Homo sapiens: one gene and its partners. The protein of the gene in region 1 purifies or fractionates together with the protein of each later gene. This does not show direct contact. Each region holds a gene or a part of one and is shown on either strand. Other genes may lie near its edges.

Region 1 (4,382 bases):
CTAATAAAATATCCCCACATTCACCTTTAAATCATTAGATGAAATTCAGAGAACTAGTTAGTGGAAAGGTAGAAACCTTATACTCTAGCAAAATCGCCCTCCTGCAGTCCCCCAAAACCCTGCTTTCACCAATTACTTTGAAGATATACAGCTGATATACAGCCTTCCCCTCCTTTTTACTGTAACTTAAAAAAAAAAATTCTGTTCCTGATTCTCAAAAGTTATCAGACTTAAAAAACCCTGTACTTAGTTGTCTAATTTCCAAATGAAGCTTTTTTTCTACTTACACAGCCCTCTGTGACCCTTGTCCTGGAAACGTTACACATAACTGAGCATTCACTTATCAAACATTGTCACGACTGTGCACCTTATACTTTTTGCTACTGTCTTATGTAACTGAAACTCCAAATTCTCTAGACGGAAGAAGTATTTTATATTACATTTCCGTGTCCTTCAACAGACTGTAGCACAACTACAAACACAGTGGGTATTTAATAACTCACAGAAGATGCCTTAATTTAGAGTGATCCAATAATACAGCATGAGAAGGCACTTACAAGTACATTATATAAAGCAACAGGTAAAAAAAAAAATCCTCAACAGTTTTTAAGGTAAGAAAATATATGTAGTACCTTCCATCTTTTCTATCTCTTTGCCACCTATCCCTCAGGCCTGATTCAGCATTTCCTTCTGTACTTACATTTGGTTTCATTTTCATGCTTAAAAATTTAGTTTTTAAGAAAATTTTCACCACCCCAAAAACTCCCTACCCTTTAGTTATCACTCTAATCCTCCCTATCTCCCCAGCAATCAGTAATCTACTTGGTATCTTTATAGATTTGCCTATTCTGGGCATTTCATATAAAAGGAATCACGCAATACACGGCCTTTCATGGATGTTTGCAAGTTTCATCCATACTGTAGCATGTATCAACCTTATTTATCACTGAAAAATATTCAATTGTATAGATATACCATTCTGTTTATCCATTTGTTAATGGATAGTTAACTTTTTGGCTATTATGAAATAATGCCACAAACATTCACATAAAAGTTTTTCTGTGAAAATGTTTTCATTTTCCCCCAGGGGTACAACTGGTGGGTCAAAAACCTCTATGTTTAACATTTTTAGGAAATGCCAGACTGTTTTCTAAAACACCTGTACCAGTTTATATTCATACTAGCAATGCACAGGGTTCTAATTTCTCCACATCCTAATCAACACTTACTATCATCTGTCAGGCTCAGCTATCATCTGTCTTTTTGATTTATAACCATCCTAGTGACTGTGACATATCTCACTGTGGTCTGGTTTGTATTTCCTTGGTGACTAATGATGTTGAACAGATTTTATGTACTTACTAGATATTTGCATATCTCCTTTGGAGTAATGGCTACAGATTCTTTGCCATTTTTAAATTGGGTTGCCTGTCTATTGCTGAGTTCTAAGAGTTCTTAATAGAGAATATATAAAGAATTTTCTAACTAGCACTCTAGGTTTTTACTTTCTTGATAGTATCCTTTGAAATACAAATGTTTTAACTTTTGGTGAATTCCAAAATTTTCTTTTCTTCTGTTGCTTATGCTTTTGAAGTCATATCTAGGAAACCACCAAGCTCATGGTCTTAAAGATTCACTTTTGTTTCTTTCTAAAGGTTTTATAGTTTTGGCTCTTACATTTAGGTCTTTTATACATTTCAGTTATTTTTTTTTATATGGCATGAACCTTCTCCTAGTGAATTTAAGTAATGTTGATGAATAAAACAAGCACTGCAGCAAAACATGTGAATGAGATCTGAAAAATGGAATGAAGTCCAGCCCTTACTATCATATAAATCCCAAATTAAGTATGAAAATGTGCTTTTTGTGCAGTAAGGTCTGCAACATTTCAATTTTCACTGACAGCTTAAAGATAGAATTAGTCTAAGAATGACACAAACCAGAACCTGCATTGCTTCCCATTAATTCAACAGTCATTAAAAGGGATAGAAAAATTCTCAAGTACTAACATGCAGATGATAAATATAGCTTACTATAATAAGCTTACTTAATGGAACAATTCAGTATGGTTTAGCCATTAAAACTTAAACTATAAAGAGAAAAACTCACCTCTCTTGAATTCCATGTTACTTCAAATATACTCTAGACCATAAAATATTAAGTAAAAAGAAAAATAAACTACATTATTCTTCACAAATTGCCTTTTAAAAACTTTAAATAACAGCAAAATGTAACTTTTTTCAACACTGAAATACTTATGTTCTGGAAAAGACTTCATACTGACAGCGTACTGATACTGTTAGAAGCAAAGTTAAAAAAATAATTGCCAAGAATTCACAATGCCACCTTACCTGCTTGCACTTCTAGAACGTCTGGCTGTGCTGTAACTTTTTGGTGGTGTTTTAGAACGTTTCTTTTCTTTGTCTTCTTTCTTTTTGTCTCTAACAAATGAACACAATTTATGAATGCATTAGAAGACTCAGCTGATGCCAATTTATATAGCACTACAAACACAAAAATATAATCAGATCTAATCCCATCCTTAAAAGCATAAATGTTGTTCTGACAGAAACTGTTTTAAAAATAATACTTTATGTGGCATATTTGAAGTACAATAACTTCTTTTAAAATCCTATTATCCTAGGTTTTCTCCCAAGTAGACTAAAGTAGACTATGGGTGAGAAAATAACTAGGATGTTGGCTTGAAATATACTTGGTAAACACCAATAAGTTAACTATCTCTAGGCTCCTCAAGACTCCTTTTTCTCTCAGCTGATTACCACTTTCCCAACCCACCTCTCCTATCAGGCCAAAACCCATAGAGCACTACCAAAATCCATCAATATCATGAATATTCTTCCAAGACACACATCCCATGTCAACCTCTATCATGGATCAAGCAAGCTTCTTTTTCTGCGGCTATTATGAACTATTCAGGGCTTATTAGAAAATATCAACAGATTTTGACTACAGCCGTAACTCAATTTTTTTTTTTTACAGATTCCTATAAATTTTTACTCCTCACAATATTTTTTCCCCAAGATCATCATTCTCCCCAAGACTCTAAGCAAAGAGTAGATAAACGATATATATTTGTTGAATGAGAAGTCTCATAACAACCCCCCTCTTTAACTATTCTCTAATTTTAAGAATCAAAGTATCCCTCTCTTACTGTTCTAAGCTAATCTTTCCATTCTGCATTCTCAATTTCATTTTTTTCCCTTCTCTGGTCATCCTCGGTTCCCTCTTCATTCAATCTTTATCATTGGTTCCCTCTTCATTTGAATCTTTATCATCTAACTCCTAGATTACTAGAACAGTCCCCTAGTAGGTCCCAGTCATGCCTTCCATAAACTGATTCTGTACTCTGTCAGAAATCTTTTAAAGTACAAACCTGAAAATATTAATTCCCTGTTCACCATTTTCAACTCATTCCAGTTGCCTCCTGGATCAAGTGCATAGTGTGAACAACAAAGCCTTCCACGATCGGTCTCATTATATTTTTCTGACCTCATTTTCTAGTCCAACTACATCAAAATATTGTTATTTCAAGAAACACCATTCTCCACCTGAAAGCATGCCTCCCGTTGAGTCTAGTCAAATCTTTCAGAATTTAATACTCGAGTCATTCTCAAACCTCTTCCAATATCAGCAAGTAGCAATCATCATTTAACAGTTCCTCCCCTGTAATTAAATCCATCACTCTTCTCCTAGTAATCAGAAAGTCCTTAAAGAAATGCTTAATTCCTTTGTATAACTGTTCTATTAATCTACCTTGTTTGATTCACTCTGCAGCACATAAGGACTAAAAGCCCCATTATTACAGGTTTAACAATGATAGTAAAGCTACCCCCACTCTTCTGTTCTCATCAGTTGAGTTTTATGCTTCCCAAGAGTAAGTTATGTTGTGTCCCCAGCTGTACTTACTTTAATGACATGATTTAACTAAATATATAAATGAACAAAATAATGCCAAATATAGAGTTGCTTCTAGAAAATTAAGATAAATATTTTAGCAAGAGATAAAAAGCAGTTGCTAAAAAAATTAAGTGCTGTGAAATTGTATGCCTCACAACTATAAATGACTGGGGGCATACTAATTTAAAAGTGTTTGGTTCTACACGAAAAGACTGGTTTTTGAATATATTTTTAGATGGAAATAAAACGTTACGGTATTTCTTATGAAAGAAGGTAGCAGGACAGCTAACAATTCCTACTACTAAGAAATTTTACTTAGGCCCTCAGCTGTAAGCTGAAGTTTCAGTTTACAAGGAAGCACCAGAAAGCAAACGTCAGCCTCCTCAAACTCAAATATTGACAGTTTCTTCCCCTGTCTAGCCCTATTTCTCTGCCCCGCACCCCAACCACCTCTTTTGTTACTA
Region 2 (4,059 bases), on another chromosome or scaffold:
AAATGAGACTGCACCCTAGGGCGTCTGATTACTATTATGACAATGAACTTCTCCATTCTATCACTCGCCAGTTTACTCAAGAAAAAAATAGGGCTAAACTCCCAAGGAAATAATTCTGCAGAAGCAAGAAGCTATATGCTCAGGACTCTTCATTGCACTGATGAAGTAGGGAATTTACATGTTAAACAGGAAATGGTCAATTGTATTGATTTGGCATGATGAACGTGATTACAATTATGGAAAATGATGATTTAGGCTGGGCATGGTGGCTCACGCCTGTAATCCCAGCATTTTGTGAGGCCCAGGCGGGCAGATCACAAGGTCAGGAGATCGAGACCATCCTGGCTAACACGGTGAAACCCCGTCTCTACTAAAAATACAAAAAAAAAAAAAGAAAGAAAATTAGCTGGGCATGGTGGCAGGCGCCTGTAGTCCCAGCTACTCAGGAGGTTGAGGCAGGAGAATGGCGTGAACCTGGGACGTGGAGCTTGCAGTGAGCCGAGATCACGCCACTGCACTCCAGCCTGGGCGACAGAGACAGACTCCGTCTCAAAAAAAAAAAAAGAAAAGAAAATGATGATTTAAAGGCTATGTAGAAACATGTACTGGACATTTTCTGCGTTAAGTGGAGAAAAGTAGAGTACAAAATCAGAGACAGTATAGTGTCAGTCACCCCTGAGTGTGAATTCCAGCTCTGCCCCTTATTAGCTCCATGGCCTTAAGGAAGTCATTCAACTACTCTGAACCTCAATTTTATTGTCTCCAAAAGAATAGTAGTAGTATGTATCTTACAGGATTGTTGTGAAGCTAAATAAAAATGAATGTGAGAATAATGTCTGCCATATAGAAATGTTCAATGTTAACCACTGCTGCTATCATAATTATACCATAAATTCAATTACAAATGTGCTGAACAAGGATTGGAAAGTGATAGGCAAAAATGAAAACAACTACAATGGTAAGAGGAAGAGATTATAAATATGTGTGCTTTTTAATTTCTCTAAAATGTTACATCATTTTCCAATAAAGAAAAAAGCATTTTAAGTAGGAACCCAAAAAAATCCCATACTTGGGACCTGCGTCCTAGTCTCAACTTTTTCCTCCAGGGGCCCAAGGCTTCCTGTGCCCAGTTCCTAAGGCTCCGGTGGCATCTGTTGGAGAAGGTGAACAGTATCCTGAACCCCTTAGTCAGGAGGACACATTCTAGAATCTAGAAGGTGCTGTCTTGGTCAGATCAGACCCTGAGAGAACAGCTGTAGCTACCAATTGAATCAGATTCATTCATTCATGCAGCATTCACTCATTCATCCATATACTTTTTGAATCACTGTTATATGCAAGGAACTTTTAAAGAATTACTCTGACCCAATGTATGAATTTGGAATAATCTCCAAAATACTATATAAGAAAGCAAGCTTCAGAACACTGTGTATAGAATTCTACTATTTGTATTAAAAATAGATATATAAATATACATATTTATAAACTTGTAAATGCATAGAATTGCTATGAAAGGATACACAACATATAGATAACAGTGATTAACTCTGGAGAGGGGACTAGAGGCTGACCTCCATGGGGAAGCTTACCATTTATTGTATACCCTTTTGTATTGTGGAATGTCTTACCATGTATATGTATTAATTTTTCAAAACAAAAAAACAAACAAACAAAAAAAGAAACTGCCTGGTGCTGAATATACAGTGGTGAACAGGACAGAGGTTCCCCAGTCTTGGGGAAGGCAAAGTGTTGAGCTTACTGGGCCACAATTATCAAATTTTTTAAAACCAGACTGTTTACATAAGTTAAGGGGAAAGTTCTTTCTACAACAATTAGCTTATAATAATTCAGCATATCATTTTACAGAGATAAAGCAGTTGGAAAATAAATACTAAGTAATTTGTCAAGTCTTAGACTGTATTAAGTTGTAGTTTCTACAAGGGAAGGGATCTTATCTGTTTAACTTGATCAGTAGAGCATTCACTGCAGCATAATGTGCAGATAAACGCTTGTTACAGCAAGCATTTTCTGATGATGACAAATGATAGCACAACCATTTAAAAAAATCTTGAAAAAGAAAAGACCAGAAGATGCTGGACTCTGAGGGAACTGTGTGTTCCCTGTGAGGGTTAGGCAACCTTTTCTAGACAGTCCTCAAAAAATGATGGTGTTCAAATGGCAAGGTAAATCCCAATGAGAATGAAAGGTTGTAGAGATACCACGTTTCGAAATGTCAACGGTGTGATGCTCGAGGCCCTCCTTGGGGTGACAAGGCACAGATGGACTCCAAAGAGAACCTGGCACTTGGCAGGGCACCCCAACTGCATGGGAAGTAGGAAAGCAAATGTCTGGGGGGCTGCAAACCACTGACAAGCTGGCAGCCTGTCAAAGCAGCCTTGGTCACTAACGAGCACAGTGGTTGACAGGCTTGACTCAGCACCATCACTACAGGTAGCCTCTGCACATCGTTTAACCTCTCGGAGCCTCGGTTTCTTCTCCGTAAAATGGAGGACAACTGTGAGATCTTTGTGAGGATTAAAGGAGAGAATCACCAGAAAGTGTTCAGTAAGATGCTAGGCACACAAGGAGGGCTTAAAATGCTATCTTCACTCTTACTAAAGAATGGCTAGGTGTCTGGGCCACTTCATAACTGCTAATCAGCATCCAAGTCCAAACAGCAGACAAAATGTGCTCCACCCTCCATGCCCTAAGGTCAAGTAAAGATTTCCCCACATTCATATAGTGTTTTATAAACTAGAAAATACTTTCACATTCATAAGCTCACAAAAGCCTGTGAAGCCAGTTGGATGGGAATTACTAACTCTATTGTGAAGGAGAGGAGACAGTGAGGTTAAGGGATTTGTTAAGAGCTGGCTAAGGACAGAATCCAGGCCAGGACCCAGGTTTTCCAGGGACTGGCTCAGCATTTTTCCAACTCACGTTCTTCCCAGGAAGGAGATGTATATCTGGGGTCACGACAGGTGGTCAAACCTGCAATTCTACCATCTCTGCCTGCTCTCCAGCTACCACTGTGTCTGAGCAGGAAGGGATCCAGCCAGTCATTTCAAACCCTTCTATCAGCCTCCTCTGGAACCCATTCCTGTGAATGGACCCAGGGTACAGGGATGGCTTCCTGTAACTAGAATTAGGCATGGGACAACAGCTACGGCAGGTCTAGGTCTGGCTTTGCAGGTAGCTGGAAACAGGCCTGGGTTGCCCCACTGCCAGCTGGGGAGGCAGGGAAGTGGCAGCCTTGCCAGGAAGAGCAATTATTAAAAGGGTGCAGACAGCGAGAGTCTCTCTGAAAGTGAGGCAACCTTTCCCACTGCCATTAGCATTTCCACTAAAAACTTGGCATTTGATAGAGGGGAAAAAATGTATTTTTTCAACTGTGAAAAGGTCAGGCATATTTATCTGACTTAATAATTTATAATTGATATTTAATGCCTCCTTGAAAGATGACCTCTAAGCACCCGGCCAGCACCCTCTTCCCTTTACTCCACTACATCCTGCTGGGCGCAACCCCATGCCACCTGGGTTAGAGGTCAGACGACACCTCCACACAGCCTGCTCCTCGTGCTTGGGTGGGCCCTGACTCCACCATCAGTGAAAAGACAGCCAGTCTCCCAAGTCTAATCCCAGTTCTGCCACATTTGAGTTCTCTGTGGCAGTAGCGATGCTGTAAGAAATAAGAAACCTCTTGAATGCTATAAGAAAATTATAAAATTCCTCTTCTCCACCCCCTTTTCCCTTTTTACCAGTAAGGGGTTCTCTTATGTTGAAAATCAACTGAAGGAAAGATGAAGGTGCCTAGAAAATTTCGATACGCCCTAAAGCCAATGTCACTAGCCTGGAGATCTTGGAGGTGACTTGACCATTGTGGAGCCGCTCCCCTCACCCCTTCAGAAGGTCTCTAGAGAACTAAGTAGTACAGGGCTCCCGGTTTCCTAACCACAAGCTCCAGAATCTAGAGAAGGCCTTCCTTAGACAGTAGGAAGTATTGTTCTCCCTCAGAGATGGGACAAACAGGGGAAGTCTGGGAAAGACCCTTGGGTGGAA
Region 3 (4,382 bases), on another chromosome or scaffold:
TAAAATCTGTAGTAAAAAAAAAAGGTTTTTTTTTTTTTTGTGAGACAGAGTCCTGCTCTGTCACTCAGGCTAGAGTGCAGTGGCGCGATCTCAGCTCACTGCAGCCTCTGCCACCCAGGTTCAAATGATTCTCCTGCCTCAGCCTCCCAAGTAGCTGGGATTGTAGGCATGCACCCCCATGCCCAGCTAATTTTTGTATTTTTAGTGGGCATAGGGTTTCACCATATTGGCCATGCTGGCCTCCCAAAGTACTGGGATAACAGGCATGAGCCACCGCACCTGGCTAAACACAAAGGTGTTAATGTACTTATTGAAATGCACATGATATCTCACTGCACCGTGAACATCATGTGGAAGATACCAGTGCTCTATCAGGCATTCATGTCTCAATTTACAAAAAGCCAATAAAAACAATGTTGAAAAAATCCATTAACTGTTTTCTATTATACTCCACACAAAATAATACTAAATACTAGTCATGAGTATTTTTGTTAGATGGGCAACTAGGACAGAAAGTGGGTTATAGCTGAGGCTGACTGAACTGGCACCAGGAAGAAACAATGCTCAAGATATAACTAGTGGCTAGGCGCGGTGGCTCACACCTGTAATCCCAGCACTTTGGGAGACCTAGGCGGGCGGATTACCTAAGGTCGGGAGTTTAAGACCAGCTTGACCAATATGGAGAAACCCTGTCTCTACTAAAAATACAAAATTAGCAGGGCATGGTAGCACATGCCTGTAATCCTAGCTACTTGGGAGGCTGAGGCAGGAGAATCGCTTGAACCCAGGAGGCAGAGGTTGTGGTGAGCTGAGATTGCGCCATTGCACTCCAGCCTGGGCAACAAGAGCGAAACTCCGTCTAAAAAAAAAAGCTATAACTAGTAACAGTTACCCAACTAAGTAAATAAAACCAAGAAAATGGAATAAACAGGAAGAACACTGTGTCACAGATGACACAGCTCTATCTGTGTAAGAGAAAGGAAAGGATCTAGTCCACTTCTTCCTTTAGCATCAAAAGAGAAGACAGAAGACAAACTCAAAGAAAGAACAGAAATGGTAGCCAGAAAGCAGAATGCAGAAAGTAGAAATTGGCTTTGTCTCATCCCTTCGGTCTGTGTGGTGGCTGTGAAAGTGGTTGAATAAGAAAACAGGCCAGGTGCAGTAGCTCACATCTGTAATCCCAGCACTTTGAGAGGCCGAGGCAGGAGGATGGCTTGAAGCCAAGTCTACCCTGGCCAATGTGGCAAAAGCCCTTCTAAAAAAAAAAAAAAACAAAAAACTAAAAACAACAGAATTAGATTTCAGAACTGGTTCTGAAATCTAATTCTCTACACTATGCCCAAATGATCAAAACGATCTTTCTGAAATGTAAATTTGATCTTGAAAAGAAAAAAAAATTACAAGAATAAACTTGTAAACAAACAATTAGCATTCTATGATATACTACCTCATCTGTCTACTAAAAAATAATCAACAGTTTATCGGCCAGGCACAGTGGCTGACGCCCATAATCCCAGCACTCTGGGAGGCTGAGGTGAGTGGATCACCTGAGGTCAGCAGTTCGAGACCAGCTGGGCCAACATGGCAAAACCCCATCTCTACTAAAAATATAAAACTAGCCAGGTGTGGTGGTACATGCCTGTAGTCCCAGCTACTCGGGAGGCTGAGGCACGAGGACTGCTTGAACCCGGGAGGTGGAAGTTGCAGTGAGCCGAGATCACGCTACTGCACTCCAGCCTGGGTGACAGAGTGAGACTCCATCTCAAAAAATAATAATAATAATAATTAACAGTTTATTAAATTCTTCCTGCCTTTCTCTGCAAAAAATTATTTTATCCTATTTTCCTGATGAGATCTTTGGGAGCTCTTCCCAAAGCCTTCTCTGACATCTCTATCAAAAAGACCAACACTGCCTCCTACTGCAGCCCTTCCTGAGTACCCCTGGTTGGGGATGCCATCATTCTCTCTTCCAATCTCCACCCTGAACCACATGTGTTTATGTCCAAGTGTAAACTCTCTTAGACCAAACCACCCCAAAGAGGACCTGAATTTGCTTCCTCTGTCTCAGCATCTCTCACAGTTCTATGCATGTACCAAGGCTCAAAACTCATTAAATGAACTGCATGATTCTGAGGGCAAATGGCATGTCTTACATCCCATATGACAGGTTGAATTCTAGTCCCAGTTCTGGCATTCTCTGGCCATGACACTTTGAGCTTGCAAATTCTTATCTTTGGGCCTGTGTCCTCCTCCTGTATAAAATGAGGTTGTTGGAAAAAATGGTCCCTGAGGAAACTTCCAACTTTAAAATGCTATGGTTCTGTAACAGTTAATTTATATCAAAAGGAATACTGGGGATGGGTATCGTGGCTCATGCCTACAATCCCAGCACTTTGCGAGGCCAAGGCAGGAACACTGCTTCAGCTCAGGAGTTCAAGACCAGCCTAGACAACATAGCGAGACCCCATCTCTACAAAACAAACAAAAAAAACAATTAGCTGGGTGAGATGGTGCACACCTGTAGTCCCAGCTACTTGGGAAGCTGAGGCGAGAGGATCACTTGAGCCCAGGAGTTTGAGGAGGCAGTGAGCTGTGATCATACCACTGCACTCCAACACGGGTGACAGAGCAAGACCCTGTCTCAAAAAAAAAGTAAAACTGGAGTGGCGGGGAACAAAGAATTGCCTAGAACTTAACTGGTATAGCAGATGGACTGAAGATACAGGTAAACACTTTAAGGAATGCACATATCTCAGTATGGCTTTGTTCAAGGCAACTGGACAATTCCTTGGAAAACTCCCAAATGATACCTAAGAATTGACTGAGGACTCCACGGAATTGGAGCAAGACTCCTGTCCAGCTAAATAAGCAGGGCAGTGATAAGCTGCAGAGACCCAGTTTATTTATGTGCTCCTCAGTGTCTACCACTGTGTGCCACGTCCCCCACCAGGTGTGAGAGACACAGCAGTGAGCAAGCCAGGCATGGCCCCCGCTCTGTGAAGCTGATATTCTTCTTCCGGCCACCAGGCCACTTGTGGGTGGACAGAGATTCCTGTAGACTTTCACCCCTCCTCACTTCTGTGCTTGGGAACATGATCTTCCCCTTCCCCCACTGCCTTCTCTGGGTTCTGCTCTTTACCCGGCTTAACTCCTAATTACCCTCCTGGAGATGCCACTTCTCAGGTGGTCCTGGCTTCATTAGGGCCCCAGTTCTCAGTCCCAATGCTGCACACTGCTCTTCTGTAACACTGGTTATGGCTGTGATTTATTTACTTGTGTGATTTCATTTCTGGGTTCCCCTCTGTACTGGGAAATCCAGAAGGCCAGCATCTGATACACCTTTCTGGTTAAGTCCCACAGTGCAGTCTGCAAAGGGAGCAACCATCCTGGATTTAGGGGGTAAAAAAAAGGTACAGGCCTTACCTGTTCTTTGTCTGTAGCAACATCACCTATGACTAAGACCTGGTATGTTGGGAATCAGGAGGCTGTAGAGTAGATCTCATACTTAGTAACTGCTATTTCTACTGGCCACCAAGCCATCAACAGCCCAGCAAAGCTAAAATATTAGGCTGCTGTAGCCCAGTTGATAAGAAGCCCAGAGTGAATGGCAGACACCAAGTGCAGCTGATACATGAGATTCCAGACCTAGATTTCACTGCAGCACGAGAGCCTCAAACTAAGCTTTGCTTTTTTTTTTCACTCTCTGGCTCTTGGAAGGAAAGAACAACTCATGCTGCTTTGGGGAATTCCACAAGGGTTCAGAATCAGCATACTAAAAAAGGACTTGGTCTCAGAATGCCGATTCCCTGAACTTAGGAAAGGGAAGGAGAAAAAGGACCTCTTGAATAAAGTCAAATACTTGGAATGGTTCATTTCTGCTGGTGGCTCTTTTTAATTCTGGAAGGGTTGCAATGGGCTTGTACACAGAGGGGTTCGGCCCCTGCACTCACGTGGTATCGTCCCAGCGCTGTAGACACTGGCTGTGGAAGCTGTGGTTACATAACGTTGTGAGGATGCCATTCACAGACTCGTCCATGCGCTCCAGACACACCGTGCACTTGGGGAGTTCAGTCAGGTCCATCACTGGGAGGCTGGCGCCCTACAGGAAACACCTCACATAAGCCTCACTCTTCATCTACCAGCAATACTTTATTTTTCCTTCTTTTTTCTGAGACAGGGTCTCGCTCTCTGTCACCCACGCTGGAGCCCAGTGGCGCAATCATGGCTCATTACAGCCTTGACCTCCCAGGCTCAAGAGATCTGCCCACCTCAGGCTCCCCAGTAGCTGGGACTACAGGCATGAGCCACTGTGCCAGGCCTTTCTTCTTTTAATAATAGTTTTCTAGTTGCTTTTTTGACTCCTGGCAGGATATCCTCAATAT
Region 4 (3,412 bases), on another chromosome or scaffold:
GTTAGCTTATTCAACCAACAAGGGGAAATAAAAAAAGACAAAGATGCTCACACTAATAAATCTTGATTAGCCATAACTGTTTACTACCTTCTCCATTCCCATACCCAACTTCATTATAAGAAAGGTAAATAATAAATCAATCGGAAAACCAAACATATTATGGAATCAGAATAAACATGGAATCTTCCATACTTCCAACATCTAAAATTCAACAAATTACATTTATTTGGTTCTTTACAGGTGACACAGCACTTTTACATAATTATCTCACTCAACCCATATTCAAAATTAGGATCTGAGGCACTACCAAGAACCTGAATAAGTAATACTTTCAGGAAAATAAAAAATATGACTGTTCAGTTTTAGAAATATAGTTAAGGAGGGTTAAACAAAAAATGGTTCTAAAATAATGTCCACTTTGAACATTCTACTTAATGTTTTAATAAACTTAAAATGATATAAAAAGACTGGGCACGGTGACTCACGCCTGTAATCCCAGCACTTTGGGAGGCCAAGGCAGGCAGATCACTTGAGGTCAGGAGTTCAAGACCAGCCTAGCCAACATAGTGAAACCCCCGTCTCTACTTAAAATACAAAAAATTAGCTGAGAGTGGTGGCGTGTGCCTGTAGTCCCAGCTACTCGGGAGGCTGAGGCAGGAGAATCACTTGAACCTGGGAGGCGGAGGCTGCAGTGAGCCCAGATCGCATTACTGCACTCCAGCCTGGGTGACAGAGCAAGACTCCATCTCAACAACAACAAAAAATCACAGTGCCAAGTCTAGTGATTCCACGTCTACACTAGTCCTATCCATAGCCTTTGTTGGAATAAAATATGAAAAGAGATGGTAAAAATGATACCTAAAAAGACACTAGATGCCAAACAGTCCCAGTGATCAGTAATAACTAAAAAACTATGAGTATCAACTACTATGTCCCACACATAGTGGTTTCCATATACTATTTTACTCAAACTACCAATAATCTTAACAAAGCAGGTATTCTTACTTTCTCCACTTAGTAGATGGGGAAAGACAGGTGAGATAGTTATAAATTACTTAGCCAAGGTGGGACGTGGTGGCTCATGCCTGTAATCCCAGCATTTTGGGAGGCCAAGGCAGGTGGATCACCTGAGGTCGGGAGTTTGAGACCAGCCCGGCCAACATGGCGTAACCCTGTCCCTACTAAAAATACAAAAATAGCCAGGTGTGGTGGCCTGGGCCTGTAATCCCAGCTACTTGGGAGGCCGAGGCAAAAGAATCGCTTGAACCCGCAAGGCAGAGGTTGCAACGAGCCGAGATCGCGCCACTGCCCTCCAGCCTGGGTGACAGAACGAGACTCTCGTCTCAAAAAAAAAAATAAATTACTTAGCCTAAACCAATGAACCCAAGTAATCTGACTTTGGAGTCTGCACTAAACATGTTTGAACAGAGCAAAAAGATAGATAGATGCAAATGGTCCTCATTTACGCAGGGCACTATTGCCAGGAAGAGGTCACAAAGAATCTACTTGTATCAGAGACAAGTATTTCACAGTAGGGAAAGGAGAACAGCAAAACATAAAAGGCTTTCAATAAGAACTTTTACCTTGAAAAATTAAACCCAAATATGTAGCAATAACTTGATGTTGTATGAAATACCAAGTAGGTTTTAACAGCAATTATCTGGTAATTTTTAGTATAAAACAAAGAATGATGCTTTAAAAGAGAATAATTTGAATTCAAAGATGAGAAAGTGCTCGAGAAAAGCAAAACTTTTAATAGTTTTACAAAAATAATCCTCTTTATGAACATGCTGACATCTTAGATATGATCATGTATCATGTATGGTGGAAAAATTCCTATACAACTTCATCAACGCAGGAAGCATCAGGGACTAAAATAACACAATCTCAGATTAGGGGACTTCACGCCCATCCTTCCCATACCCATCACCAATAAAGACATTTAGGAGTTCAGCAACAACAATGACAGTTGGGCAGATTTGACACAGGAAAATGTCTAAACCTTCCATCACCTAGCAGGATAATTCTGAAAATTCATTGTGCAGATAAGACAGGTAACTTTTAAAAAATGCTTATTTCTGAACACTGCACTGAGGGTAGACCCCCAAAATCAGTTTCAAGAGTGTGAGATAAGAGGCCTACAAATCACTCTGTCCTTTACAAACTCCCTCCTCATTCTCTGCATTTGCCTAGGATATTCACTCTATATGGAATATCTTTTTCCTAGCTGATTCTACCTGTTCAAATTTTACCGACTACCTGAAGCCATTTTTGATTACTCTGTTATTTGCCTCATCTAAACTCTCGGATCATTTATTCTATGATATGCAGTTTAGCACTTTATAACATGTGGTAGTCTTATGCCAGTCTAATTATTGTCAAAGATGTCAATCCTTTGTTCTAACTCACATAGGAGACTTTTTGTTTTTTTTTTTGTTTGTTTTTTTTTGTTTTGAGAGCTGGAGTCTCGCTCTGTCACCCAGGCTGGAGTGCAGTGGTGCGATCTTGGCTCACTGCAACCTCCACCTTTGTGTTCAAGCAATTCTCCTTCCTCAGCCTCCTGAGTAGCTGGGATTACAGGCATGTGCCACCATGCCCGGCTAATGTTTGTATTTTAGTAGAGATGGGGTTGGTTGGCCAGGCTGGTCTTGAACTCCTGATCTCAAGTGATACGCCCATCTCGGTCTCCCAAAGTGCTGGGATTATAAGCGTGAGCCATGGCACCCAGCCTCACATAGGAAACTTCTTAGAGCAACTTAAAGTTGTTCAACTATGTTATACGTCTTTCTTATGTTTTACTAAGTCTAGTACAGTAAAACATATACAATTAATTATTATTAAAATCACCTTAAGAAATACTAAAAACAAGGCCAGAATATAAGAAATAAAATATTGAGAGCCTATTAACAAACTCAGCTTGTGAGTGATTTCAGGGAATGGAAAGTTGAGTCAAAAAAAAATAGGAAAGATTTTAACAGCTTTCTGTGGATTTTATTATAGATTTTATGTGGAGTAATCCACAGAATATGTAAGACTAGTAGGTACTAGGCACTCAAAAAATGTTTATCATACATATACTTCTGAATAGTTGTCAAGAAAAAAGCAATTTTAAACATGGCTTACGTTACACAGAAATTACCTGGTTTAAGGGCCATCATGTGACCTGAGAAGTTTTGACAGTTTGATCTATACAGACTATGAATGCTAAACTCTTCTACCACATTATAATCCTTTGTCTATCCTTAATAGATATTCAAGTCCTCAAACATACCTTACCCTATGCCTGCACCTTTTGAATGTTCTCATTAAACCAAGGGAAGTCTTGGAACCTCCTTATTAGTCTGCCTTGCCAAGCTGAAGGTATGTAACAATACATATCTATAGTGCAGATAAAACAAGAATATACTAGAAT
Region 5 (4,382 bases), on another chromosome or scaffold:
TTTCTTAAACACCACATAATGGGCATTTAATTATCTAACACTACATCAACAATGTATACAAGGTTTTCCAAATTAAAAAAAAAACCTGAAATTTTTGGTTTCTTTCTTGACAAGGTATATCTGAAGGTGTCCTTTTCAGAGTGGTCACAAAGAAAAAGACAACCAGTGCAATAGTGATAATTAAGATGTGTGCAAATCTAAGAAATAGCTGTATCACAACTGTATTCTTACACAGAAAGGAGTATAAGAAAGTAGCAATAAGTGGATGGAATGTGAACTTGAGAGACAAGAGGCCTAAGTTCTATTCATCTTTGCTACAAACTAGCCCTGTGAACCTGACCTCTCTAAGGTACCAATACTTTCAACTATAACACAAGGAGAATGAACCATGGATCAAGGATTAAATGTGTTTGACAAAAACTAATGCATTCAAATTTGGAATGCCCAACACTATCATTTTTAAACCCTATGGTAAGAATTCCACTCCACAATATTTCTTAATTCTTTCTCTAGTTTTAATGACTTCTCTTAAGACAATATAACACATTAATTCACCATAACAATTTAAACTTTTAAATGATGCACATTATGCTTTACTTCATAATTGTTACAAGGGAACCTTCTAGTTCCTGTTTTATATGAATTGTTTTATAGTTAAATCACTCACATTTTCTTCCCAGTATTAACATAGTTATTAAAAGCTTACTATCTGGATGTGGAGGGCACAGGCTCAAATCTCAACATCATCACTTATTAGCTATGTGACCTTGGGCAAGTAATTTAACCTGTCTGTGTACCTATCTCGTAACATGGGTTGTAAAAATTAAAGGAGTTAATGCATGTAACATGCTTACAACAGTGCACTGTATATAAATCATCCAACTTGTGTTAGCTATTGTGACGTGATTTCTCAACTTCATAAACTCAACCCTTCAAAAATATTGCATTTAGAACATTATTTACATGAAAAGATAATCATTTTTAACTCATTGAGGGCATTATCCAAAATAAGTGTAGCTTTAAATGTGGCTCTAATTTTAGGACATGTAAACAACAACAAAAAAAGGACATTTACCAAAACTTAAGAGAAAATATTGCAGTTAGCCATGAATCTTTCAAAAACGTTTCAAACAGGTGAGATTCAAGGCAAATTTCAAACGCAACAGACACATGAGAACAAACTAACTGACAATATGAAAACATAGCTGGAAAGACCATTATAATCTGTTGGTTTACCTGGAAGTGGAATTGGCATGCCAGGAAGGGGAACACGAAACGGAGGTACCATTACTGGTGGAAAAGCAGGTATTGCTGTTGTTGGCTGAGGTACTGAATGAGGAACAGCAGGAGGTAACGTCTGAGGGTGCGGCTGGGGAACGGTTTGCACAGGTGTGGCTGTAGGAGCAGGAGTTGAAACACTAACTGTAGGCGTGGCAACTGAAACAGCAGAACTTGGGGTCTGATCTTGTGTTGTGGGTGCTGATAAAAGATAAAACAAAAACATGTATCACTCCTTCATAAATCATTTTACTATATTCATTCATCATTTACACATTCAGTAATTTAAGTATTTAAGGGACCATTCTATGCACTGCAAGAAATTTGTCAAAAGGTCTTATCTTCAAGAAGCTTGAAAATACTTAAATGAAATACAAAAATGAATACAAAGTAAAATGGGATAAACATATAGGAGTAAAAATCAAGACCCAAAGAACATTTCTAACTGTGAGAGGGTATAGAAAAGTTTATATTGGGATGCTGCGCCTTGAAAAATTAAGATTTCAACAAGAAAAACAGCAGGAAGGGGTAGAAGAAAAAAATAAACCAGTGAGAAAAGTATGAATAAGGCAAAGAGTAAAGAACCAAAAGGAATTGTTTAGAAAATTGAAGGCAAGCAATTAATGAGTGAAACAGTAGGCATACCAACAAAACTAGTGAGTTGTGTGGCTGGAAAGGTAGGCCAGAAGCAGAAATTAGAAAGCCTTGAACAAAAGGCTAAGGAGTATGCCCTTAAATGGATAGGAAAAGGGCAGAACTTAGGTAAATATAGAGAAAATTATCTAGTAGAATACAAGACAAAATACATTAATGGTAGTTACCCTCTGTGAATGCCTCTTTCACATTTTACTATTAATATATACGTTTTGTTAGACTTTGAACTTTTTATAAGAATGCATTCACATTATTTATGTGATTTCATGAAGGTAAATGGGTATATAGCAAACTAAAGGTTCCTGTATGGAAGAGTAATAAACAGGTTTCATTTGATGAATTAACCTCACAGATGCATAGGAAGAAAAGAACAGAAAAAGATAAGCAAATAACTAATGACTAACTGGATATGAATGAATGGAATCAAAAACAACTCAGGTTTCTCTCATTATTTTAAAAAAATAAAATTTTTTTAAACTGAGGTTTCCATTGTGAGAGACCAGGAAAATGTGAAATTCAGGATCATTTGGGTTCTGCTAACACATTATTTTTAAATATCGAAAATAAAACATCCCATTCCTAGTAATTGCATTTAAAATCAAACTAAAAACTAAAATCCTTATTTCATACTTTTCAGTTTCAATTCTCACATGTTACAAAACAATTTTGTTATTTATTCATAACCCATCTAGTTCCAAAATAAAATTCATTTTGGTAATTCATTGGTAACAAATACTTCATCTTTTTTTGATGTAAAGAAAAAAATGTCTACCTGTATCGGACTAAGAATGAATTTGTCAAATGAAATAAAATGAAAACAGTGCTTTCCCAATCTTTATGCCAACTTTGTTCTAAACAAAAGCACACTATTTAATACAAATCACCCAATAATCCAACTGACAACAAAATCTGTCAGTATCTTTTTCTAGCTTCTAATAATGAAAAACTCACTTAGGCTGGGAAGATGTGAGCAATTTCGTACTTGTTAATGAGGGACTCACCTTGGCTAAATAGACAGCAGGGCCAAACAAGTATCTTCAGGGGCCCAGGAATGAATTGTTGGTCTAGCATAGACCTAGCCTTAGGGTACAGTATCATATTAATATAATTTTATAACAGTGTGAAAAATACAAAGTACATGCAACATTTGCCCAGTCCCATACATATACCATTTAGCATTTGTAATCTACTATACTGGCTGAAAATGTATCTGGTCATTGTTCCCAACTTCCCTGAGAAGTAGGATTTCTTCATCATTTTTCACAAACTTGCACAAAATGAGTTTATGCTCAACTGGGATTAAAATATATTCTTAATTTTTAGTCCCATTTACCCCACAGATCTATACTGTAGCTCAGAAAATTAAAATTTAAATATTATTATAGTATTCAGATAATTGCTAAAATTGTGATCCAAAGTACTATAGTCAGGAAAATAAATAAGGGCATCAAATTTCAAGTGGAAAAGAACACCAATGGAGATGACAAAAAATATTTACAACCCATTCCTCTTACTTTCCAGCACAGCATTTTCTGAATTTGATTAGCAGCCATGAGTCACGACAGGAAAAGAACAAAAGCAATAAAATAATGGGAAACTGGGAGAATGGTATCTAAGACTTCAGTGGGTAAATTCCCACTAACTTCATTTGCTAAAGTAGCTAGTGAAGCACTAGGCCTCAAAATATACTAACCCAGCCTCAGATCTTAACTAAAAAAGACAAGTGACTATATATAATAGATGGAGAAATATTAAGATTGCAGTAAGACAACACTTTATGATACTAAATCAAGTAAAATAAAAACACACACTGGAATACGTAGACAACATCAAAATTGATGTTTAAAAGCAGTAAAAAGAATATGATTTTGCTATATTATATTTCTGGGAATAAAGTCCTCCCAATCACTGAAGAGTAAAGCAAAACTGACAAACAGGACACAAGACAGCTATGAGCTTACTGACACACTACTCTGAAAACAGACATGGACTATATATAGTATGGTTAAATTATCTAGCTCATCACCTTTCCTAAAACAAAACGAAGCACTACTATTTCTCCTTTCTAAGAACGCAGGAAAGAAAATGTAAGCAACACAGAGCCTCCACATAAAACTACATTGCTTTTATTAATCCCCTTCTCCCATTACTACCACAGGTCTCCCATAAAAACTGGTAGTCTCCTGCCTTGCCACAGAGGTTTGGGAAGCACTAAACCTATAAAAAGGTAACAACCCTTAACAGACTAGCTAGTATGACTGTTATACTTTCATATCAAAATTCACCTTCACTACAAAAGCAAACAGATTTGTAAAACACTATTCATATTTTCCTGTTCAGTACATTCCCCCGCTACAAAATGTCTAAAAACCATTAAGAGGATCTTTAAAGGCTATCCCCATATTATATGTACCTTACTTGACTGCTTCAGTTGCTTTTTATCAATAAAA
Region 6 (4,382 bases), about 46 Mb from region 1:
TCTTACCCTATACTTAATCTTCAAGCAGAAGGGGATGACCAAATGTGCAAAAAATCAAAATCAGCTTTAAGAAAAACAAAAACAAACAAACCAAAATCACAAAAAAAAACAACAAACTTACCCGATTCAGATAACTCTACTTTTCTAGGCTTCGGTGCTGGTGAAGGGGATTCTCTTTTCTCAGTACCTTTATGTTTTGTCACTAAAAAAGAATAAGAGTGGAAAAAAGCTTACGTACAAAAAAAGGTCTATACAAGATGCTTTTCTTTTAATTTTTAAAAATTTATTATTATTTTTAAATAAAGATGGGGTCTCACTATATTAGTCAGGCTAGTCTTGAACTCCTGACCTCAAGCAATCCTCCTGCCTGAGCCTCCCAAAGTGTTGGGATTACAGGCACAAGCCACTGTGCCCAGCCAAGATGCCTTCCTGCTATTACAAAAATGGGTGTGACTACTCTCAAAAAGAATTTATGAAGACTTAAAAAATTCCTGTAAGACCTTGTTGTCATATCTGAACATTATCTGAAGTGAGACAAGAATTTTTAAATGTTTAATGAAAAGCCTCAAAAAGTTCTACAATGATTTTCAAATCTTGAGATTCTCCCAAGAAAACCAACAGTTAAAGGAAATTGGGAGCTGCTACTGAGTAGAACAAGCTCAGTAAAGTAAACCTCTGTGTGCTACACGAGCTCCACAATCTAAAATACACACCCTCCACACCCACACTCACTCCCTCACACTCAACTTCAGAGACTTCATCAACATGAAAGCTTTTAAGCAACCACAATAGGTGGGTTCAGAAAAGTAAAAGATGATAAATGATTAAGAAATAAGATCTCATGAAACTTTCACAAAGATATTTGGTCTAGAAAAGAAGAATGACTGCCCAACAGGTTAAAGGTTCTTTATGTAGAGCATAATCTTCACAATAGCACAGGGGATTTAAACTACCCATGAAAAAAAGCAGACCGCCACAAATAGTAAAAATGATTAAATACAAAGACGAGGATTCTTTCCAAAGAGCTAGAAAGAAAAAAAGGCATTTCTATACCTCAAGTAGTAGGAGAGCAGTGGGTATCCTATGAATTATCCAATTGTCTTTTACCAATAACATAGAAATATGGTAACTACCTTTTGTAAGCCTGCTGTATTAGACACACTATTAACACAGTAGTATCACATCCCTTTCTCCCTGTTCCATTTCACAAGAGAGGAAACCTGAGGCTTAAAAAGAAGCAACTTCACCTCAGTCACAAAGACAATTTAAGTGAGCTAAGATGTGAATCCAAGAATCTATTTTTAGGCCATGGGTTTTAATCTCAACAACTAACTCTGCTTATAGTATCTATCCATTGCTACAACTAAAATCATAAGTATATTCACATATAAACATATATATACCATAAATTAACCTAAAACACCACTTGAGAACATCCCAATAAGAAATAAACCTACAGACAATTTGATCCTCTCAGGATCCTGATACCTGTTTTGTGTGATTAAAGCAATTGCCATGGAATGTTTGACTCAGAATACAGATACATCTCATTTAACAGACACTCACATTCAGAATTCTGTAATGGTTTATTCCAAGGGGCAGTAATTAGAGAACCAGTGATCTAACACAGTAATCGCATCTTTGCTAAAGAAGTCAAAATGAAGAATTTACCAGTATGCCTTTTCAATGAACAGACTTTTCCCTTTCTCTCTCTTTTTTTTTTTTTGAGACAGAGTTTCGCTCTTGTTGCCTAGGCTGGAGTGCAATGGCATGATCTCGGCTCACTGCAACCTCCGCCTCCCGGGTTCAAGGGATTCTCCTGCCTCAGCCACCTGAGTAGCTGGGATTACAGGCATGCGCCAACCACGCCCGGCTAATTTTGTATTTTTAGTAGAGACAGGGTTTCTCCATGTTGGTCACGCGGGTCTTGAACTCCCAACCTCGGGTGATCCACCCACCTCTGCCTCCCAAAGTGCTGGGATTACAGGCGTGAGCCACCGCGCCCAGCGACTTTTCTTAAAATTTCTACGTAATAAGCCATTTGGACAAATCACTGGATTGGGTAAAGAATGGCTATCACTCAATTAGATATCAGGAATCATGACAGTGCAAATAGCAAACTATACTTAATACTTATATTTTAACAAATTCAAAGAAATAAAAATATTTTAAAATTGTTAACTATTTGAGGCTCTTTTTCTAAGTCCATATTCTCTATTTTTAAGTGTTACTTAATCCTCAATTTCTGCAAAGATATTATGGGCACGTCGTTAAAAAGTGCATGTCCAAGTTACCACACCTTAGAGAACTGGGTTCCCAAGCTTGCTTTGGAAGCTGATTGTTTGGATACATTTTCCCCTAAGAAACATTAAAAATGTGGTTATGCTTACAAGATAGTTGGCAAAAGCCTACTCATTATATAATACAAGTGAATTTAACATTATTTCCATTCTCCCCCAGTGGAAATACACATCTGGAGTTGCATCCTGATTCAATTTCTCACTAATTACTCAGCTAAAGTAGTCTTTATTAATACATTTGTATTAGCTGGGTGTGGTGGCATGTGCCTGTAATCCCAGCTACTCGTGAGGCTGAGGCAGGAGAATTGCTTGAACCTGGGAGGCAGAGGTTGCAGTGAGCCAAGACTGCACCATTGCACTCCAGCCTGGGCGACAGAGCAAGACTCCGTCTCCAAAAAAAAAAAAAAAAAAATTTATACCATCAAACAACTATCATTTATATACTCCTACTCTGGTTTAATACAATTGAATCACAGCATTATTAATATTATAACAGCACTTCAGATTTCTATTTTTCTAGATGAGACTTTACACCATTTACTTTATGTTAATGTTGTTTTAAGTATTCAAGGGACAAAATCATTCTAGCATGAAGTCAGAAATCGTAGAAGGCAACTTTAAAACCACAATTTTAAATTTACTCCAACAGTCCTATTAATTATTAATCTTAGACCTGCCCAAAAGATCACTTATAAAGATAAGTTACTCTGTGACCAACAATAGTAAAATAACCATTTAAGTGTCCAGATAGCACAATGTATGTGGCCAAGCTAATCTAAATAAATCAAAATTACCACACCGTCACCACCAGTATTGATCATGTTAACATACTTCGCTGACTGTGCCACTGATTTCAAGCACTATTTTATGTACTAAGATAATGCCAATTTATGAAATGTCAGTAATTACAAATGTTTCCCCTAAGATCCCTTCAGATGACTGTATACTGTATTCCAAATAATTAACCTGTAAGTTCCCCAAAACACTTTTCCTGCCTCCCTCCCACTCCATTTGCCCACTATCAAGAGCAGAGCCCTAAAGCCCTGATTAGTGGCCACTAGGGAAAATATTAACTGTAATATCTATTACATTTCAATGATGTTACTGTTCTAAGCAGCAGAAACTGCAAAGTAATTTCTGAAATCATACTACCAGATAGAGAAGCTAAAGAATTTCAACCCTGCCCTCCATTTCTCACCTTTAGCAATCAAAGAAGAGTTCTGGGGTAGGAAAGTTGTGAAAAGTATTCACTATTTAACTGGGAATGACAACTCAAGTTTTATTCCTAGTTGGTTGACCTTGACCAAGTCAACTAACCTGAAAATCTGTTTCTTGATGACAACTGTTAAGGTCTTTTCTAGCTCTGAAATTTCATCACAGAGGGCTGGGATCAGTTTAATATAAAAGGTTGTCTGGGCCGGGTGTGGTGGCTCACACTTGTAATCCCAGGGGTTGGAGGCTGCAGTGAGCTATGACTGGGCCACTGCACTCCAGCCCGAGTGACAGAGTGAGATGCTGGCTCTATTTAGCGGGGTGGTGGGGAGAGGTTATTTCCAAGTAGGTCAAACCAATATTCAGCTCCAGTGGTCACAGGGGAGACTGACTACACTGCCTGTAGTGCCTCTCTTTGGGTAGGTTGTTTGAACACGGAAGCCCTGTCCCAAAACCCACAGAAATACTTATTTTCACCATGGCTTACTTCTTTCCTATGTACATATCCACTCTTGTCTTGTTTGCAAAAAGTATATGCCAAAACACAAGAAATTAGCATCTGTGCAGATGCTTTTTAAAAGTACCTAATAATTCTTAACAATCAACCTATTTTAACAAGGATTGGTCCCTCTGTTCAGGTACTTTTGCAACTCTTAGGCTATATGATATAAATAGAAAAAAATCATCACTTGATGTGTTTTTGCAAAGTAACAGGTAAAAACACTTGTTTTTTTCCCTGGAGAGCTTTGTGGCTCCAGACAAAGAATAAATATTCAGAAGTACAAACTTTACAGGAAAAGACAAAATAGGCCAGGGCCATGGGCATCAGATTTGGACATGGTAACTGAAAATGGACTGAAATTTTCCCAA
Region 7 (4,382 bases), on another chromosome or scaffold:
GGCAGTGAAAATGAAAATGAAGAGAAAATAGGAGCATAAGGGCTATTACAGAGACAGAATTTGCAGGTCTAGCCCCCTGTATAAGCTGGCGGAGAGGGAGACAGTGAAGGGGTCAAGAAGGAATCAAATGACTGAGGTTTCCAACCTAAGTGACTGGGGTAGGGAGTTATGCTGTTAACTGAGTTGCAGAATGAAGGGGGTGGTATAGGTTTTGGAAGTCTGGGGAAAGGAAATGCGAAGCTTACTTTGGACTGGACTAAGTTTAAGGTGCATATGGGGGACCCAGGTGATCCCTGCTAGTCACATGGAATATGAGACTGGAGCTTCAAAGAAGGGGTTGAGAGTGATAGTCGAAAGTTATGAAATTTTCACTCCTGTAATCCCAGCATTCTGGGAGGCCGAGGTGGGCGGATCACGAGGTCAGGAGATCGAGACCATCCTGGCTAACACGGTGAAACCCCGTCTCTACTAAAAAATACAAAAAATTAGCTGGGCGTGGTGGCGGGCACCTGTAGTCCCAGCTACTTGGGAGGCTGAGGCAGGAGAATGGCGTGAACCCGGGAGGTGGAGCTTGCAGTGAGCCGAGATTGCACCACTGCACTCCAGCCTGGGCGACAGAGCAAGACTCCGTCTCAAAAAAAAAAAAAAAAAAAAGTCATGGAATTTACAGAGCAAGAATAAAAAGGACTAAGGAAAGCCAGAGAGAGAAAATACCCAGAGTATATCACAGAAGCTAGAGGGGAGAGATTTTTAGAATGAAATGTGCCAATGGTGTCAAATATGCTAAAGACTAAGAGGGCTTGGGATTTGGCAATTCGGAGGCCCCTCACTAATGCCTTTTGAGAGAAGTTTCAGTAGGGCAGTAGGGGAAGAAGGTGAGAGAGAGGAGGCAGCAGTGGAGACAGACCAGCTCTTCCCCAAACACATTTCTCATCAGATAACAAGATTTGCCTCCCCTGTTAAAAGCTTAAAATTCAATTTTTTTGAAATTTTAATAAAATCAGTTTGTACACCCTAAGTTAAATTAGATCCAACAGGTGTCTTCACCATTGTTTCATAGCCTTTTTTTTTTTTTTTTTTTGAGACAGAGTCTCGCTCTGTCGCCCAGGCTGGAGTGCAGTGGCACGATCTTGGTTCACTGCAAGCTCCGCCTCCCAGGTTCATGCCATTCTCCTGCCTCAGCCTCCCAAGTAGCTGGGACTATAGGCGCCCGCCACCGTGCCCAGCTAATTTTTTATATTTTTAGTAGAGACGGGGTTTCACCGTGTTAGCCAGGATGGTCTCGATCTCCTGACCTTGTGATCCACCCACCTCAGCCTCCCAAAGTGCTGGGATTACAGGCGTGAGCCACCACGCCCGGCCCATAGCCTTTATTTTTATTTTTTATTTTTGAGACAGAGTCTCACTCTGTTGCCCAGGTTGGAGTACAGTGGCCCAACCTTGGCTTACTGCAACCTCCGCCTCCTGGGTTCAAGCGATTCTGGTGCCTCAGCCTCTTGAGTAGCTGGGATTACAGGCATAAGCCACCACGTCCAGCTAATTTTTTAATATTTTTTAGTAGAGACGATGTTTTGCCACGTTGGTCAGGCTGGTCTCAAACTCCTAACCTCAGGTGATCCACCCGCCTTAGCCTTCCAAAGTGCTGGGATTACAGGCGTGAGCCACCACATCCGTCTGGCCTGTTTCATAGACTTTAAAATGCTAAAGCATGTTGTGACTCTCCGATCTCCAGTAGGGGCATGCAGCATTTTCTAGCAATGCCTCCTCTCCTCCTCTTGTGAAGGCATAATGAGAGACTAAGGTTTCAAGGAGAATGCCTTGGGAAATACCACTGTAGACAGAGAATAGTGAGGAGAGGGGTGAAAGAAGTTACCTCACAGCATTTCTAGCACTTTGCAGTTTACAAATGCCTTCTCATGCATTATCCCACTTAATTATTTGCAGCTAAACAAAATTTTAGGGAGCTGGACCAAAACTATAGTACAGACTTTCGATTTTCTTTTCTTTTTTTTGGGGGAGGGCGGGGAAAGAGTAGAGGGTTTTTTTTTTTCCTCAGGCTGGAGTGCAGTGGCGTGATCTCGGCTCACTGTACCTTCTGCCTCCTGGATTCAAGAAATTCCCCTGCCTCAGCCTCCTCAGCAGCTGAGACTACAGGCATGTGCTACCATGCCCGGCTAATTTACATATTTTTAGTAAAGACGAGGTTTCACCATGTTGGCCAGGCTGGTCTTGAACTCCTGACCTCAGGTGATCCACCTGCCTCAGCCTCCCAAAGTGCTTGGATTATAGGCGTGAGCCACCGTGCCTGGTCTGAGACTTGATATTCAGTTTCTAGAAATCCTAATACAGCATATACTAGTTGTTGGTACTTTGCAATCTAAGTTGTAAGGAGAGACCTAGGAGTTGCTAGCCACAAAGCACCCTCTGAACTAAGCACTTCCTTATTTCTCTGTGCCCTACTAGCATAATTTCTCAAAAGTCAGTCTTAGAATGAATGAACGGCATGGTATATTCAATGTATGACATCTGAGCCTCACTCTATCTTGAAGAGGTTGTTCTATTCTTAGTGTAACCTCCTCCACTACCATCTAGTTTTTATTTTTTATTTATTTATATATATATTTTGAGACAGAGTCTCATTCTATTGCACAGGCTGGAGTGCAGTGGCACAATCTCGGCTCACTGCAACCTCCGCCTCCCAGGTTCAAGTGATCCTCCTGCCTCAGCCCCCCTAGTAGCTGGGATTACAGGCACACACCACCATGCCCCGCTAATTTTTGTATTTTTAGTAGAGATGGGGTTTCGCCATGTTGGCCAGGATGGTCTCAAACTCCTGACCTCAGGTGATCCACCTGCCTCGGCCTCCCAAAGTGCTGGGATTACAGGCGTGAGCCACCACACCCGGCCCCATCTCGTTTTTAATAACAAACTTGGCATTTTCCTGCTATCTCCAAGATTACACTGTCATTTGGAAAAAGCAAGGTGGAGGACAGTGTGTAGTAGCATGCTACCCTTCTTTTTATTTAAAAAGGAGGTAAACATGAATATAGAAATAAAACTCTAAGACAACAACAACAGCAAACTTATGCAAGTGGTTACTTCTGGGTGAGTATGGGGGTAAAAATGATCAGATGGGGCACGGGTGGAATCAAACTTTTCACTACATATCTTCTATGCTTTTTTATTTTTGAATCCTACAAATTGTATTACCTCTGATTTTTTTTTTCTAAAGTCTCCCTTCATCCTGCAGCCACACTTTAAACCTGATCTCTTTTTCATGTAGAAAAGGAAGCCTCCTAGAAAGAGAATGGTAGTGACTTCAGCAAAAACATCAGAAACAGCTTATCCCCATAATAAGCAACTACTCGCTCAATTTCTAGCTATTGTGGCAAGCAATGTTTACTTTGATTAGCTTTAATTAGCTCAACTTCCCAACGCCTAAGAAACTACCATTCTTGGGTTTTTGGAAAGTAAAGAGGAGAAGCACAAAGAGGGCATCTATTTAAGACTAATCAGCCCATTATAGACTCCATACCAATGGTGTATTGGAAAAGTAGGCTAGCTGTTCTAAAGCAGTTATTCGGACTAAAAACCGGACTTCAGGGACCAACATAGGATTTCCAACTTCTAATTTTGCCAAGAGCATAACTACCATTTCACCCCCAATCCCATCATTTACTACCACCATCATTTCATAGAAGAAAAGATATTTCAACACCATTAAAATAGAATAACCTCATAATAAAAAAGAACTGGCAACATTACACCCACCAAACAAACATACTTAGAATTATCCTTTTGCTTCAGACACAAACTTTGTTAGGGGTCAGTGTTTGGGAAACCCAGCTCTAAAACATCAACCCCTGCCCTGCAGCTCAGAGTCATAGTAAGTTACCTGCTGAAGTTCTAGTCATTGCCAGCAACACATTATATTTTAATGCGGTATTCCTGTACAAGCAAAGTTTGGCTTCTGTTGTTCACATATCCTCACTAAGGCATCATTAATGTTATCGAGTTCCTGATTTCCCTAGGATCAGAATGTGGCTTTAAATGCTTTTTAAAAACTGGGGTAAAAGAAAGAAAACATTATTATGTTCCTGCTATACGGGCAATCACATGGTTTAACACAAAAACATGGAAATAGCAAGTACTGTATACTACAAGCAGATGAAAAGTGACACAGAGACCGGGCGCATTGGCTCATGCCCGTAATCACAAAACTTTTGGGAGACTGAGGTGGGCGGATCATTTGAGGTCAGGAGTTTGAGATCAGCCTGGCCAACATGGTGAAACCCCATCTCTACTAAAAATCCAAAAAAAAAAAAATTAGCTGGGCGTGTTGGTGCACGCCAGTAATCCCAGCTACTTGGGAGGCTGAGGCA

Evidence for each region.
Region 2: the proteins of SRSF11 (region 1) and ZNF592 fractionate together in Homo sapiens (co-fractionation; one large-scale study listed by BioGRID). This does not show direct contact.
Region 3: the proteins of SRSF11 (region 1) and BRAP fractionate together in Homo sapiens (co-fractionation; one large-scale study listed by BioGRID). This does not show direct contact.
Region 4: the proteins of SRSF11 (region 1) and LUC7L2 fractionate together in Homo sapiens (co-fractionation; one large-scale study listed by BioGRID). This does not show direct contact.
Region 5: the proteins of SRSF11 (region 1) and TCERG1 fractionate together in Homo sapiens (co-fractionation; one large-scale study listed by BioGRID). This does not show direct contact.
Region 6: the proteins of SRSF11 (region 1) and SRRM1 purify together in Homo sapiens (affinity purification with mass spectrometry; one large-scale study listed by BioGRID and IntAct). This does not show direct contact.
Region 7: the proteins of SRSF11 (region 1) and UTP14A fractionate together in Homo sapiens (co-fractionation; one large-scale study listed by BioGRID). This does not show direct contact.

Annotation. Positions count from the first base shown.
Region 1 is NC_000001.11:70,244,877-70,249,258, reverse strand, and holds part of SRSF11 (serine/arginine-rich splicing factor 11), read right to left. Parts: intron 2,442-4,382; coding exon 2,352-2,441; intron 2,143-2,351; coding exon of another isoform or gene 2,127-2,142; exon of another isoform or gene 2,110-2,126; intron 1-2,109. UniProt on the Homo sapiens protein: May function in pre-mRNA splicing.
Region 2 is NC_000015.10:84,803,346-84,807,404, reverse strand, and holds the end of ZNF592 (zinc finger protein 592), read right to left. Parts: 3' UTR 960-4,059; downstream 1-959.
Region 3 is NC_000012.12:111,661,689-111,666,070, forward strand, and holds part of BRAP (BRCA1-associated protein), read right to left. Parts: intron 4,100-4,382; coding exon 3,951-4,099; intron 1-3,950. UniProt on the Homo sapiens protein: Negatively regulates MAP kinase activation by limiting the formation of Raf/MEK complexes probably by inactivation of the KSR1 scaffold protein.
Region 4 is NC_000007.14:139,418,154-139,421,565, reverse strand, and holds part of LUC7L2 (putative RNA-binding protein Luc7-like 2), read right to left. Parts: intron 1-3,412. UniProt on the Homo sapiens protein: May bind to RNA via its Arg/Ser-rich domain.
Region 5 is NC_000005.10:146,460,648-146,465,029, reverse strand, and holds part of TCERG1 (transcription elongation regulator 1), read right to left. Parts: intron 3,013-4,382; exon of another isoform or gene 2,934-3,012; intron 1,480-2,933; coding exon 1,237-1,479; intron 1-1,236. UniProt on the Homo sapiens protein: Transcription factor that binds RNA polymerase II and inhibits the elongation of transcripts from target promoters. Regulates transcription elongation in a TATA box-dependent manner.
Region 6 is NC_000001.11:24,656,539-24,660,920, reverse strand, and holds part of SRRM1 (serine/arginine repetitive matrix protein 1), read right to left. Parts: intron 203-4,382; coding exon 122-202; intron 1-121. UniProt on the Homo sapiens protein: Part of pre- and post-splicing multiprotein mRNP complexes. As a component of the minor spliceosome, involved in the splicing of U12-type introns in pre-mRNAs. Involved in numerous pre-mRNA processing events.
Region 7 is NC_000023.11:129,912,224-129,916,605, reverse strand, and holds part of UTP14A (U3 small nucleolar RNA-associated protein 14 homolog A), read right to left. Parts: intron 4,028-4,382; exon of another isoform or gene 3,915-4,027; coding exon of another isoform or gene 3,896-3,914; intron 3,297-3,895; coding exon of another isoform or gene 3,211-3,296; intron 1-3,210. UniProt on the Homo sapiens protein: May be required for ribosome biogenesis.